Linked DNA regions of Homo sapiens. The protein of the gene in region 1 interacts with the protein of each later gene in a pairwise test. Each region holds a gene or a part of one and is shown on either strand. Other genes may lie near its edges.

Region 1 (5,154 bases):
AGGATGTGAGAGTGATCCAGAAGCCGTCCGACAGCACGCCGTGCAGCACGCTGGCCTGAAGCCATGCCTCCTTGTGGTGTGATCCTGTCAGCACTCCGGAGCTAAGCAGATGTCAGGCCCGATCCGGGCCGGGCTGGGGGACTAGCTGAGCAGCGGGGGGAGGGGGCGTGATTCAGCAGTGGCACATTGTCTTCAGGGGACAAACGGTATCTCTTCCTGAGCTTCACAACAGGCGCCTTGTTCTGCCCAAGGTGCTGTGTTGGAAATGGCCAACCTATAGGGCCCGGGAAGTGGGGAGTTGCAGGATCTATGGGGACAGCTCAGCACGGGCGGTAATCAGTCAGCCCTGATGCCACCCCTGACACTGTGCCAGCCTCGCACCCCCTGTTGATCCTTTCCAGGGCACAGAACTCTCTCCCATCAAAACTGGACTCATGCTGCTTGCTTATAGAAGGAGTATAAATAAGTGATAAGGAAATGTTCTGATAATGATAAGCGGGTATGGTTCCTCAGCAGACTAGATGTATCAAAGAAGACAATTGTGTGTGTTTGTTCATTTATTTTTCAGTGTTCCAGTTCCTGTAGTCAGTTTAGAGAAAATTCCTAACCTAGTGAAGGCAGATGGTGCCAATGTCAAAATGAACTCCACAACCACTACTGCAGTTTCTGCCTCCTCCACCTCGTCCTCTGCCGTCTCCACCCCTCCTTTAATTAAGCCTGTCCTGATGTCCAAGTCAGTGCCACCTTCACCAGAGAAGATCTTAAATGGCAAAGGAATTCTGCCAACCACCATAGACAAGAAACACCAAAATGGCACCAAAAACAGCAACAAGCCTTACAGGAGACTTTCAGGTATGTGTCAGTGTCGTCAGGGTCTGACTCATGATTAGACTGAAAGGGAGTCGCAGCCATAACGAAGGAGTGATGTGCTGTTATCATTAAGCAGGTCTGTTTCATTTTAAGGGGGATGCAGAGTTTACCTGCAAACAGGAACCCCACCTAAAAATGCAAGGGAAAACCAGGTCTCTTCTTCCCCGGGCAGATGAAGTCCCTCACTCAGTTCAGTGCTTAGCGGGAGTTACCCTAGCAACCCAGGAGGCAGGGTGCTCTGCACCGACCTACTCTGTAGATTCCGAGGGTCTTGTGAGCAGGTGATTCTGTGTATCTGTATCATACAAACAGGTTGAACTAGCCCTGGCTTCCATAGAAGCTTCACTGCTGGGAAGCTGGACAACACACAGGGATCTCATGGTGCCTCAAGGCATGTGAGGGACAGCCCCGCCAACAGCTGTGCTGCACAGGGACACACAGCCTCTGTCCTTTGGCCTCGGGAGTTTCCAGGTTAATTCTGCAGTTGAGTTTACAACTGTCGATCCCCCATAATCAGGTTGGAATTCCCAAACAGGAACAGTAGGGCTGGCAGTGCCGATAGGGTGCTGGGGCGGTCTCTTGTGGGTCTACTCCTTGGTTGTCTGAGCAGACACTTGGGGTGCCAGAAGAGGCACACAGGATGATGGTTATTTGTTAGAGGCCCCTATGTGGGTAATGTTTGCTTTGGATCGATCTGCTGTAGAACTAAACGTGGCAGTTTTTACTTTCTCCAAAAGACCAGGAGAAGCTATAAACTTCATAACTTCTTCTTACATCATGGGCACTCCCTGATGGTGGCCAGAGAAAGTAAAATACAGTGACAGCCACCCTGTGACAGAGAAACTGTCCTCGGGTTAAGCTTGATTTTTAAGCACCCAAGGAATTGTGGGTAATTTTTATTGTCTACTCTGTATTTGTCTGTAGTTCTAGTTTCTCTATCTTTCATCTGTAACTCTTTTTAAAATTATGTCTGAAAAATCCCTCAAGCCCAAAGCATTCGGATAAAGCAGGCATTGTACCTTGCACATCTCTGCCTGCGCTGCTCACCCACTGTCAAGAAAGAAAGGTAGAGCCTGGTGCTCTCCCTAAGCACTGTGGGCCTCACAGTTCGGGCGGGAGCCCCCAGCACCTGGCTCTTCCTGCATGGAAAGCTTGGTTTCACTCTTCAGAGGTGGTGGCAACATCCCCAGAAAACCGGTAGGCGTGGGCACAGTGGCTGGAGGCCGAGGGCTCCTCGCCATAGCAGAAGCACGGCCGTGGCTTCCAGCCTGTAACCCCATCTGAAGTTGTCTGGGGATTTTTTTGCCGCACATTGTTTTTGCATTTTGTGGGTTGTCTTGTTTCGTCGGGTCTTTTGCTTGTTTCTGCCTCACTTTCACATTTGGCAGCCAGCTCCTACCCTCAGCCAACAGCCTGCTCAGCTCCAGGTCGACATGAGGCGCTGGTGTGGGACCAGGCACAGGCCTGACTCTGACAGACCCAAAAAAAAAACACCACACCAGGCAGCCTGGCCAGAGAGGGCTCCGAGCAAACCAGCATCTCCAGGCCTAGCAGGTTTTTTTTCTAAGTGAAGCTAAAAAAAAAAAAAAAAAAAAAAAAAAAAAAGAGAGAGAGAGAGAGAGAGAAAAGGCAGACAAAAAGCAAAAAAAGGGGGGAGGCATTTTGGTAACCAGCCAGGGAATCTGTCTTGGGTATAGAGTAGTTTTCTTGTGCATATCATCAGTAACACCATTGCAACCTCCCCATGACCCTCAAAGCTTTTGAAAATAGAATACATTCATTTATTATGGTATAATCTGAGCATTGTTATATGCTCGGAGTTTACTCCACCAATTTCAGACAGTTTTCCAGCTAGGAACCTTTTTTGAGTTTGCAGCCATTCAAGGGTCTTAAGGAGATACCACCAATTTCTGTACACCCTCTACCACCAGCAACACTGCTGCCAGTCTACCCACATGCCCAGAGGGCTGTGTCATTCCTGCTCTGCAGGACTTATGTGTTTGCTCGGTGCCTTCCAGAAACGGCACAGGCCATCCAAGAGGTGGAATTTTAAAGCCCAAAAGATCCTTAAGAGATCACCTACCCTGGGCAATATAGTGAGACCCTGTATCTACAAAAAATAACAAAATCAGGCAGGTGTGGTGGTGCATGCCTCTAGTTCCAGCTACTCAGGAGGTTGAGGCTTGAGCCCAGGAGGTCGAGGCTGCAGTGAGCCTTGTGATCCCACCACTGCACTTCAGCCTGGGTAACGGAGCGAGACCCTGTCTCAAAAAATAAAAATGAAAAAAAGAGATCACCTCACATCCCCTCATTTTTAAGGTGAGGACAGCATGATTGTCTTCCTGGCAGGGGTGAAGGACCCAAGATGGGTATAGAAAGAGCAGGCTCCTTAGAAGTAACCTCCGCACAAGCTGTCCACAGTCAACTGGAAGGCAGGAGCTGGGGAAGCCTGGCCTCTCCGCACAGACATCCTTCATCCTGGTGGGGCAGCCTGCCCCGTTTTATTCCCACGTGAAGCATCAGACCCAGGGCAGTGGGGGCGGGGAGCAGCTGTGAGATTAGCAGGCCCCTGCCCTCTCTGCACCTTCAAGTTCAGCCTTCTCCCCTGCCCCTGCCTGTAACACTGCTAGAGTGCCCCTCAATCAGGTAAATGGTGTTTGTGGTCAGCAAGGCTGTGTGCAAAGCCTGCGCCGAGAGCTTTGTCAAGCATGAGAGAGGCAGGTCACTCTGACATGTCAAGGAGTAATCTCCCATTTACATGGCTAAAACTAGCAGGAAGGCAGGAGCTGGAGTCAGGGTGTCTGTACTCTTGGAGCAGCCCAGGAAAGGGGTCGTTGGGTCTCAGGTGGCTCTCCCTGGTCTGCAGCCAGCTATGCCCAAATGCCAAGGACCTGTGGAACCATTGCAAGTAAAATAAAGCGTTAAGAGCATTAAGAGCAGCACGGCTCCTCTCCTTCCCTTCGGTGCCTGCTCCCGCCCTATTCCCCGAGCCTTGTGCTGCGTTCGGCGGTGCTGCCGAAGCTAGACTTGGGAACTCTGGGTTCAGAGGGGAGCACCATTTTCCCCGAGCGGTTCTGGAAGACTTTTAGCAGCTGGTTGAGAAAACAAAACACAAAAAAACAAAAAACAGATTGCCTGACAATGTCTCACTTGTTGGTGCAAATGTGCATTTTTTAAAAAATGTAGTCTTAATGCCAAATCCTATTTAGTCTCCTTTTTTCTTATATTTTTTGTTTGTTTCTTAAACCAGAGAGAGAATTTGACCCAAATAAACACTGTGGAGTATTGGATCCCGAGACAAAGAAACCTTGCACAAGATCCCTCACCTGCAAGGTATTTCTCTTTCCATAAAAAATACTTCCTGCTCTCGCTGGGGCCTTTGTCGAAATGTTTGCATGCCACTCTCTGCACACGGCAGGGTGTGGAACCTCGACATGACCCCCAGCTGTTCTTTGTAAGGGAAATGCTTTCTTCTCGTCCATGGTAGCAGAGTGCCTGCCTCAAGCTGGCTGGCTTTTTAAGAAGGAGAAAAAAAAAAAAAAAAAAACTAGGCTTCCCCTGTTACTTGTGAGGCCAGACAGTAAATTGTATTTATAGGCACTCACAGGCGGTTCTAAAGCCTGCTACGTTTTAATGTATGCAGGAGCAGCGGCAGCGGCGGCGGCGGCGGCGGCAGCGCCCTGAAAGGCAGCCCTGGAGGGGAGGATGATATGCCGCGCCCCTGATCCAGCCACACCGGGGTGGCCAGGGGAACAGCTGACCCAAGGCGGCCGCCATTGGGTCGCCCAAAGCCCTGTATTTCATGCTGAACTGCTAGTGCTTCTTGGGATCAAGGCGATGGCCCTCTCTGCTTGGTGGCTCTGTTTGTCTGGGCCGAATCGAGCCTCCCACCTGCACCTGGATTAACTCTAGCATTCCCTCGCAGTTGCCTTTCATCAGAGAGGTTTTCATGGGTTCTGCGCTGAAGCTCGTCATCCTATGCCATTTTTTGGAGGAAGCTTTGGCTTCTTAACACCAGGAGTGTAGGGCATGGTTGCGTTCGTGTGGTCTCTGCCTCTTCCTAGCCACAGAACAGGAGCTGTTGCCTTGAAGTTGACTTTTCAAGCACCTCTAAATTTCCATGAATTGCTATTTCTGAAATGGAGGGCCTGGGGAAGCAGGTTTATGTGCTGATCAAAGAGGCTGTGCTTTTCATTTCTCTTCTCCTTAGACACATTCGCTAAGCCATCGGAGGGCAGTCCCAGGCCGGAAAAAGCAATTTGACCTCCTCCTGGCAGAACACAA
Region 2 (5,154 bases), about 84 Mb from region 1:
TATTGCCACTGAACTCAGCAGAGATGAATTGGTAACAGTAGCTACCATGTAATGAGCAATTCCGTGCCAGCACTCTGGTAGAGGATTTGTAAATTTACTTAATACTTACATCAACTTTCTGAGGTAGAAACATTCTTTCATAAATTGGTATTTTCTTTTCAGTCCATTCACATACTTGTTATTCCCACACCTGATGGAGAGAATGTAGAACTGTGTGAAAGAAAAGATAATTATAAGGCATTGTAGGCCGGGCACGGTGGCTCACACCTGTAATTCCAGCACTTTGGGAGGCCAAAGCAGGTGAATCACCTGAGGTCAGGAGTTTGAGACCAGCCTGGCAAACATGGCAAAACCCTGTCTCTACTAAAAATACAAAAAAAATTAGCTGGGCATGGTGGCACACGCCTGTCATCCCAGCTACTAGGGAGGCTGAAGAAGAAGAATTGCTTGAACCCAGGAGGTGGAGGTTGCAGTGAGCCGAGATCGTGCTACTGCACTCCAGCCTGGGCGACAGAGCAAGACTCCATCTCAAAAAAAAAAAAAAAAAAAAAAAGCATTGTATTTCAGGATAATGTTAAGCCATGCCAATAGATTTTTTTATTGTTGTTTTATTGTGCATTATTTATTATATTTTTCCCAAAGTGAAGAAGCCAAGCTGGTATATATACTAATCTGAGTGATGAAGTCTAAGCTATATAACATGAATGAATAAAGTAATAATATCTTAAATGTCTTTTTATGATTACAGTGACAGTATGTAGTAATCTTGGGTGGTTTTGCATTTCAAAAACCACTTTATGTATACACTAAAAAAAGTCGAATCAATAAAGAGATGTTTATTTAAACTATTTAGGAATGCAAGATGTCCATAAAACTTAATCCTTTGTTTAGTGACTTTTCACTCCTGTATTTTCTTGTTATGATAAGATATGTTGCTTACCGTGGAAATGGTAATAAAGCTTTGTGTTTATATAACATCTTTTAGGATCTCAAAATGCTTTTAGACTATCTCATGTATCCTCATAGTATTTTAGTGAGTAGGTAAGTGGCAAGTATTATCTTCATTTTACAGATGGAGAGAGAAATTAAGCCACAAAGTGAGTTAAATGATGTATGTATATAGTTCCGTTATCTAGATACATAGGCAACCTGAGCCACTAAAGTAAGAATACTATATTTTAGAAGGATTGACATAGTATAAGCCATTAACCCCTTAGTTTTTGTACTTTACACAGATTGTTAGAAAAAATTTATTATGCACATAGATTTTTTTTTTTAATCCTTTCTTTAGGTGTAGAAAACATTACAATACTTCTTTTTTTTCTTCCTTTTTAGGTCAGCAGCAAGGACAAGATGGAGTAAAAGTCCAGCAAGCTACTATAGCTCCTGTAACTGTAGCAGTTGGAGGAATTGCTAATGCCACGATAGGTGCTGTTAGTCCTGACCAACTCACACAAGTGCATTTGCAGCAAGGCCAGCAGACTTCTGATCAAGAGGTACAACCTGGCAAGAGGCTTCGAAGAGTTGCCTGTTCCTGTCCTAATTGTAGGGAAGGAGAAGGAAGGTAAATGCTGTATTTTTCAACTGTGTCTATTTGGAAGGCATAAAACAGCAGTTAAAACCAAGTAATTGGCTGGGAATGATGGTCACTAGAACTTCATTACCTTTGTAGCCTAGAAGTTGATATATAATATTAGAAAGGGAATTAAGTTGGGCTATTTTAGGAATGAAATTTGAGCGGTCCTCCGCCTTGTTCCTTACACTTTTAAAAAATATTTTTTCTTTCTTCCCCACCCCTCCCCCACCCCAACAAGATGGAGTGTCACTCTGCTGCCTAGGCTGGAGTGCAGTGGTGCAATCTCAGCTCACTGCAATCTCTGCCTCCCGGGTTCAAGCGATTCTCCTGCCTCAGCCTTCCGAGTAGCTGGGATTAAGTACAGGTGCCCGCCACCACACCCGGCTAGTTTTTGTATTTTTAGTAGAGGCGGGGTTTCACCATGTGGGCCAGGCTGGTCTCGAACTCCTGACCTCAGGTGATCCACCCACCTCAGCCCCCCAAGTGCTGGGATTACAGGTGTGAGCCCCCTCGCCCAGCCCATTTTTTTTCTTTTTCATAAAATATTTACGTAACTTTATTGATATAAAACTCATTCGTACACCATACAGTTCACGAATTTAAAGTGTACAATTCAGTGGTTTTTAATATATTCAGAGCTGTGTAGACATGACTACAATCAATTTTAGAGTGTTTTCATCATCCCCAGAATAAATTCTGTATCTTTTTTAAGCATCACCCCCTTATCCCAATCCTTCCATCCTAGACAACTAATTTCTGTCTTTATAGATTTGCCTTTTCTGGACAATTCATATAAATGGAATCATGGTCTTTTGTGACTGGTTTCTTTTAGCATAATGTTTTCAAGGTTCAACCATATTACAGTATGATCAATACTTCATTCCTTTTTAGGGACAAATAATATTCCACTCTATGGATATACAATATTTTTGTTTATCCTGTCAATTGAAGGACATTTGGTTTTATCCACCCACTGGCCGTTATGAATAATACTGCAGTAAACATTTGTGTAGAACTGTTTGTGTGGGCATATGTTTTCATTTCTCTTGTATTTATATGAAATTACCTAGAAATGGATTTTTGGGTCATATTGTAATTCTATGTTTAACCATTTGAGGAACTTACCGACTGTTTTCCAAAGTGGCTGTACCATTTAACATTTCCATCAATAGGGTATGAAGGTTCCAGTCTCTCTAGATCATTGCCAGTACTTGTCATTATCTGACTTTATGATTAAAGCTATCCTAGTGAAGTCATATGTCACTGCAGTTTTGTTTTTACTGATACTAATGATATTGAGCATCTTTTCTTGTTCTTATTGGCCATGTTTGTATCTTTGGAGAAATGTTTATTTGGATCTTTTGCCCATTTTAAATTATATTATTTATTTTTCATTATGGAATTGTCTCTTTATATATTCTACATACAAATTCCTTATCAGATATACAATTTGAAAATATTGTCTCCTGGCTGGGCGCAGTGGCTCACGCCTGTAATCCCAGCACTTCGGGAGGCCAAGGCAGGTGGATCACCTGAGGTCAGGAGTTCAAGACCAGCCTGACCGGCATGGAGAAACCTTGTCTCACTGAAAATACAAAATTAGCCAAGCATGGTAGCGCATGCTTGTAATCCCAGCAACTCGGGAGGCTGAGGGAGGAGAATTGCTTGAACCCAGGAGGCGGAGGTTGCAGTGAGCCGAGATCGCGCCACTGCACTCCAGCCTGGGTGAAAGAGCGAAACTCCATCTCAAAAAAAAAAAAAGAAAGAAAAAAGAAAAATATTGTCTCCCATTGTGTGAATTGTCTGTATACTTTCTTGATAGTGCCTTTGCACCAAAGTTTTAATTTTGAAGTCTAGAGTTTTCTATTTTCCTTTATTGCTTCTGCTTTTGGTATTGTATCTAAGAATTCATTGCCAAATCCGAAGTCATTAAGATTCCTAGTTGTTTTTTTTTTTTAAGATAATTTTATAGTTTTTACTCTTACATTTAGGTCTGTGATTAATTTGGGGTTAATTTTTACGTATGGTGTTAGGTAAGGGTTCATCAAGCACCAGTTGTTGAAAAGACTGTCCTTTCTCCGTTGAATGTTCTTGGCACCCATGTCAAAAATTAGTTGACCATAGAACATGGATTTATTTCTGGACTTTCAGTTGTATTCCATTGATCTATATGACTATCTTTATGTCAGTACCACACTATCTTGAGTACTTTGGATTTGTAATAACTTTTGAAATCGAGAAATGTGAGTCCTGCAGCTTTGTTATTCTTCAAAATTGTACTGACTCTTTCGGGACACTTGCAATTCCATGTGAATTTTAGAATCAGTTTGTCAGTTTCTATAAAGAAACCAGATGGTATTCTGATGGAAATTGCATTGAATCTGTAGATCACTTTGGGGACGGTTGCCAGCTTAACAATATTACATCTTTTGGTCTATGCACATGGGAAGTATTTCTGGTTGTTTAATCTTTAACTTCTTTCATCAATGTTTTATAGTTTTCAGAGTATACATTTTGTACTTTTGTTAAATTCCAATTTTATTTCTGATGCTATTATAAGTTGAACTGTTTTCTTGATTGTTCAAGTATGTAGAAATACATTTTTTAATGTATTAATCTTTTATCCTGCAACTTTTGCTGAACTTTTTGATTAGTTATAACAGTTTTTTTGTTTGTTTGTTTGTTTGTTTGTTTAGTAGAGTCTTTAGGATTTCTGTGTATAAGGTCATGGAATCTGTGAACAGAGATAGTTTTTACTTTTTCCTTTCTACTCTGCAGGAGTTCTGTTTCTTTTTCTTGCTTAGTTTCTCTGTCTGGAACCTCTGGTACAATGTTGACAGTGTGCTTGTATTTTGTTGAGGATTTTTGCATCCATATTCATAAGAGAGATGTCTGTGGTTTTCTTTTTGTATTGTTTTTATCTGATTTTGGTAATGATAATACTGGCTTCATAGAATGAATTGGAAAGTATTCCCTCCAAACTGGTATTAATTCTTTAAATGTTTTGTGGAATTTACCAGTGAAGCTGTCTGTTCTTGGGCTTTTCTTATGGGTAGTTTTAATTACGAATTCAGTCTAGTTGCTTGTTGTAGGTGTATTCTGATTGATTATTTGTTCTTGAGTCAGTTTTAGTATTTTGGTCCGTATTTTTCTAGGAATTTGTCCATCTCCTCTGAGTTACCCAAGTAATTGCCGTAGAATTGTTCATGGTATTCCTTTGTAATCCTTTTTGTTTCTATAAGGTTGGTAGTGATATCTCCTCTTTGATTTCTGATTCTAATAATTTGAGTCCTACTTTCTTGGTCAGTCTAGCTAAAAGTTTGTTAGTTTTGTTTACTTTTCCCAAGAATCTCAATATTTGACATTTTTTCTGACCCTAAGAAGGTTCTTCACAGCCTCTTTGCTCACTTCTTTCTGGCAAACTAGCCAACCTGTAGTTAAGCCTTTATTTCCAGTGAATCTCTTAGTCTTCTCCCAATTAACTGCCTTTTGAAACCATCTCTACTTTTTTTGAGAGTACCCTTAGGCTTGAACTTCTTCACATTGTCTTGCAAATGAAGTCAATTCCTTTGGGAAGA

Evidence for each region. Proteins that work in one complex are often made in the same cells at the same time.
Region 2: the proteins of ATXN7L1 (region 1) and SP4 interact in a two-hybrid assay, tested with the Homo sapiens proteins (one large-scale study listed by BioGRID).

Annotation. Positions count from the first base shown.
Region 1 is NC_000007.14:105,638,536-105,643,689, reverse strand, and holds part of ATXN7L1 (ataxin-7-like protein 1), read left to right. Parts: intron 1-568; coding exon 569-852; intron 853-4,120; coding exon 4,121-4,203; intron 4,204-5,080; coding exon 5,081-5,154.
Region 2 is NC_000007.14:21,475,744-21,480,897, forward strand, and holds part of SP4 (transcription factor Sp4), read left to right. Parts: intron 1-1,335; coding exon 1,336-1,564; intron 1,565-5,154. UniProt on the Homo sapiens protein: Binds to GT and GC boxes promoters elements. Probable transcriptional activator.